Regions from separate parts of the Homo sapiens genome. Here region 1 is linked to region 2. A link means that fine-mapping ties the variant in region 2 to the expression of a gene that starts in the linked region. Tissue or cell type: hippocampus. Region 2 holds a variant in brackets; the other region holds the start of a gene. All regions are shown on one strand. Distances are between the middles of the regions.

Region 1 (2,618 bases), 500 kb after region 2:
AGGCTGGGCCGAGCCTCTCTCTCCCCATCTCTCCTTTCGCGCTCAGCCCTCCAGCCCACACGGGTTCTATTTCAGCAACCATGAACTTCTCCTGGTCACCACAGGAGCCCAGAGTGTTTCCGCCTCCCTGCCTTTGCACAGGCCATGCCCCAAGCCTAGCGTGTCCTTTCCACTCGGAGAGACAGACCTTCACAAACGTAGTCTAGGTTGCGGCCCAACACAGTCTCTGCCCCCAAGAGGAGAGTGAAGACTGAAGGGAAGGGACAGAGGCAGCAGAATGGGCCCAGGGTAGGCAGCAAGCTCACTGGGGCACGGGGGGCAGGGTGGGCACCTCGGCACTCGTGCGATCTGTGCTGGATCTCCATCGCCACTCGGTTTATTGCCCACTGGGCGCTCCTCTGGGCTGCCTGCAACGCCTGAGTCCCCTGGGCCGACAGAACTGCTGGGACAGGGGGCACACAATCATGCGTGGTTGGGGAAGAGCCTCAGCCTCATCCTCCTGGCCCCAGCCCTGAGCCCTGCCTCGGGAGACCCACCAGCCTGGGACAGAATGAGGAGGCAAGTGAGCCCCGGGGACGCTGGGCCCAGCACTCAGAGCCCGTGCTCCCAGGTTCTCAGCCCAAGATGTCTCCCTAATTCAACTGAGCTGGACTGGGATCTTTGAAAGGTGCTTTTCCTTAACAATTTTTTTTAAAGACACCACCCCAAAGATACAGACATCGCAGAACTCAGCTTTATTGACTGAAAGTAGCTGTGTTTGAGTGGCCCACCTTCGGCCGGGACAGCCAAGGGCAGGGTGCTGCCCCGGGCCGTTTCTCTCTGCTTCTTGGGGCCTTCTCTCCATTCCTTTCGGCATGCTCAACAGCTCCCCTTCCCTTTCCCGCCACACCCCTCCTCTCCCACCTATATCTCAGTTCTTGGCCCCTTCTCGCAGCAGGGTGGGCAGAAGGAGCCAAAGGTCCTTATGAGTGGGGGTGACAAGCTCTTCTGTCCCCGCCCGCCCAGGGTCCCACTTCCTCTACATTCCTCCCAACCCCGCGGCTCTCGGGCCAGCCTGGACTTACCTTGCAGGGCGCTGGGGGGCAGGCGTGTGTACAGTGGGTGCCCGTGGGCAAACCATGAGCTTGGGAGGGGTAGCAGCAGCAGCACAGCCAGCAGCATGGTGACCAGGAGCTGGGGTGAGAGACCCCTGTCCTCTCTCCTCCTCGGAGTCCACCTTCCGGGTGCCTATCCTTTGGTGCCCGCCTTCTGCTGCCTTTCGGCCCCCGGGCACTGAATTCTTGTCCCTCAAATCATCTGACCCCGTTCTCTTACATCAAAATTACCCGCCTCCCTGGTCAGCCCTCACCTGGCCCTTAACTCCTAGGAGCCCACAGGGGAATGGGGCTGCAGGGTCTTTATAGAGGACAGCCTGGGGGAGGGGTGCACGGGAGGGTGGCCAAGACTGGGGGAGGAGTGGGGTAGTGGGCTTGACCTTCACCTCTGAAGTCTCATCATCCCAGCTCCGAGCCCCCCTTCTGTCAAAGGAGCCCTTGTTTCTGCGGCTCCATCAAAGGGGCCAAGACAGGGAAGAAGGGCTGACGGTTGGGCTGCAGGCCAGGCAGAGGGGGGCTGCTGGGTGGGGGCGGGCCCTGGCTCCAGGGCTGGGATGGGGGGGGATCCCCATCTGCCTCTACCCCCTGAGGAGCTTACAGCTATGACGGGGCAGACACTCCTGGAGGGAGGAGGGCAGGGGGTGTCTGGGGTTTCTCAGCAGCCCCACCCCCTGAGGAAGCCCTGGAGCTCCCCACCCCTCTGCCCCTAATTGCTTGGCAGAGTCCCTCCCCAATGTGGCCATTTCTAAAGATGATCAAAGCAGCCTAATTAGCGCCGTAATTGCCGCACTGGGGGTGGTGGGGTGGGAAGGGGCAGAGGCAGGCAGCCGCAGGAGTGGCGCGGAAAGGGAGGCGGGAGATGAAAGGCCCACAGTGGCCCAGTTCCGGGAGGACAGGCCCTAGCAGCTTCTGACGCTCTCCCAGACCCCCTGGCCCTGCACAGTGCCCGCTCTGCCTGTCCGGCATTGTTCTGTGACCCTGATCTGGCAGTGGGATTCTTCTGGAGTCCTCTGGAGTCTCATGGGCAGGGCCACACAGCTCTCCTGGGACTGAGTTACCACCTGGGGTAGGATAGTGCCCGTCTGCGCTGCCCAGGCTCCCCAATTCATGTGAGGTGAACTGGTGGGAATATTTATCAGCAAATGCTATGACCCGGGGCTCTTTCCCCCTGGAGAGCCAGCTGTTCCACAGTGACCAGCACACCATGCTAAGGAGCCCTTTCCCCAGTTACCACCGCACCTCGCCATGACAATACCTCTACTTCAGGAATGCTCTGAAAATACTGTCTGCGGATGATTCTGGTGAGTGAATTTGGTGAAGTTGGAAAGGACTCTATTCACCAGAGTATCTGTCCATCTTGCAGGGTATCTTTTTATCCATGACCTCCACAATCTTGGTAGATAAGGCATTAGCTCAACACAGCTTGAATTTTAGCATAAACAGAGACAGTGTCCAAAGGAAGATCGCCTGCGGTTCCCAGTAAGAGCCACCAAAGCAGGGGACCCAGGAGCAGAGAAGGTGGGT
Region 2 (2,759 bases):
CGAGTAGCCAGACAATGTCAGAGGTGACACTATCAGGTTGAATTCTGAGAAATTGCCATTTTGTAGGTTAAAATAGCCAAACAGGAGCAATTTCATAGGATCCCACTAAGGCTACCAGTGGCTGGTGCTGCTCTGGCCTTGCCGGTACCAAACCCAGAGCCAAGCGTCTCACACGTGAAATCTCACTTCTCCCACGCAGCCCCTTCACATCCTATCACAGATGCGGGGAAACAGAGAAGTGGGTCAGAGAGGCTTCTCCAGGAGCGCACAGCCAGTTGGTGGTGGATGAGTGGATCTGAGCCTGGATCTGCCAGATTCCAGAACCCAACCACTGGGGTTTCCTGCCATGAGCCTCACAGCTGGGATTCTGATGTCTGAACATTCTGTGAAGTCCCTGACAAAAGACAACATCGGGGGACCCCTGTCCGGCTTCTCTCCATGTCTTGTTGGGAACACAACCTTGTGAGCACCTTGCAACGCCTGGGGCCTCCCCGCTGGCATTCACCTTGCCCGCTGCAGGGAGATGCTTGGCATTTCACAGATCTGTATGGAGCACCTTCCAGTGCGGGAAACAGATAAATAGAGAAGCCCTGGTCCCTGCCTCCGGGATTCCACAACAACCAAAGGGAGTCAACAGTTGTGGGGAGTGGGGAAGTGGTGGCCTGGGCGGCTTTTCCCAGAGGAAAAGCCTTTGTTCTTGGCTGAGTTTGGGGTGGGACTTGACCTGCTGGTTCCCACATCAGAATAATGCCATCTCTCCCAACAGCAGGCAGCTCTGCCTCCGGTCAGCTCACCGCACTGGCAGAGCAACCCTGGAGGTAGCAAGCCCCACGCATGGTCAGCCTCTCTCCCCAAGAAAAACCCATTTCCAGTGGGTTCCACAAGTCCGCTTGGCCCCATGCTTTGCGGGAATTCCCAGGCCAAACTGAGAGCTGCGGTTTTGACCCCAAGCTGGTCCAGGACTGTGGGGCCTCCTCTTGGGAATTCAAACCAGCGGTGACTTTAGGACAGAATCAGGGAGTGTTTCTGAGCTGGCTGAACTTACTGAACTGAGCCTTCTGCACACGGTCCCATCCAACATGACCGCTGGACAGCCCAAGAACCAAGCGGGGTGCAATCCCAGTGGGTGTGGAGGGGCCGTGACTGTCATGCTCTTTAAAATGGCCCTTGTCAAGGCATTTCCAAACATCACACCCCGCTTCAGAATTATCCAGCAGGAACAACAACTCTTGTTTATATCAACAAAGGAACTGTGTGAGTCAATTTAGAGATAAGCCGTACCTCCAGGAGTGTCTCAAGCCAGATCGAGATCAGGGCCCAGTTGTGAAGTCGGGGTGTGTGTCCAGAAGTGGTGGGAGCCCAACTTCTAGAAGCGCCGTGACTCCTGCATTGCCCTGGACTCTCCTCAAGTCTCAGCGCCTCCTCTATCAGGTCCATGCCCTATATACACCTAAGGGAGTCCCCAGTATCTGCCTCCCACTCATCTGACCAAGCACGTTCCAGGAACGATGGCAGCATGTAGGCCCAGCCCTGGCCCAATTAGGATGC[G/A]AGGGCTCATTAGTCAGGAGGAAGTCTGTCCAGCTCTCCACGCAGGCAGGCCTGAATCAAAGGATGAGCCATGAGCCATTTCAGTTAATGTCGCTCTTCAAGTGGATGCACTGAGCAAAATGTGTGCTCAGCAGGATGGACTTCCCAGGGCCCGGGAGAGTCTGGAAAGCTCAGGGGTGAGGAGCCAGGCAGGACTTGGCTGCTCTTCTGGTTTGGCCACATACTACATGGGTGAGTGGGGCCACTTTTCTGGCCTTTTGGGATCTCAGTTTCCTCCTCTGAAAAATGAAGGTAAAAATATCATAATAGGGCCTGGCGCAGTGGCTCACGCCTGTAATCCCAGCACTTTGTGGGGCAGAGGAAGGCAGATCATGAGGTCAGGAGTTCGAGACCAGCCTGGCCAATATGGTGAAACCCTATCTCTACTAAAAATATAAAAAATAAGCCCAGTGTGGTGGCGGGCGCCTGTAGTCCCAGCTACTCAGGAGACTGAGGCAGGAGAATCGCTTGAACCCCGGAGACGGAGCTTGCAGTGAGCCGAGATCGCACCACTGCACTCCAGCCTGGGCAACAGAATGAGACTCCATCTCAAAAAAAAAAAAAAAAAATCATAATAGATCCTAAGCTGCATGAGAGCAGAGATTCTGAATGCTTTGTTTACTACTGCAACCCAGTATCTAGAACAGTTTCTGATACATCACTGTGGCCTGATAAACACTCATTAGTGAAAGGATGAATGTTACCTTTCCAGGCAGGGCATATGTGAATCTCTCTACCCAGCATCTGGCCCATGGTAGGGACCCATCAGATTTAGCACCGGGCAGCGAATCCTTTTCTTCTCTATGCACCACAACCATGCCCAAGGCTCCCTGGGCCACGAGCTTATCCCCAGAAGGACGGGTCATTTGCTGGCATGCAGCCAGAAGATATCCACCACGTCACTGCAAGTCACCACCAGACAGTGTGGGTGAGGCTGCAGAAGCTGGAAAGATGGAAAGGCGGTCATATTTAGCTCAGGGTAGGCTTTTTGTCTTAGTCTTGAGCCACAGATGCGGGAGGCCCTGTCCTTTGTTCCCCTCCCCTCCACTGGATGAAGTCCTTTCACGGGGTCTGTGGTTGGCTGTTCAGCTCCCAATGGTTCCCATGGCTCAGAGCCAACTGTGTCCACCACACCTCAGCCCCTCTTTTCCTGGAAGGTCAGCTCTCCCTGA

What was found. PIP is the estimated chance that this variant, and not a neighbour inherited with it, causes the effect.
Region 1: it holds the start of PRSS56, and the variant in region 2 is fine-mapped to the expression of PRSS56 in hippocampus (GTEx, PIP 0.99).

The regions. Positions count from the first base shown.
Region 1 is chr2:232,519,142-232,521,759 of GRCh38, reverse strand. PRSS56 (serine protease 56) reads right to left here and starts at 1,372. Exons shown (of 13, transcript NM_001195129.2): 1 at 1,065-1,372; 2 at 332-439. The coding sequence starts at 1,161.
Region 2 is chr2:233,021,689-233,024,447 of GRCh38, reverse strand. No RefSeq gene overlaps it. Among named protein-coding and RNA genes, the nearest start is that of NEU2, 9.6 kb to the left of the region's middle. The variant G/A (reference allele first, on the strand shown) is at 1,549.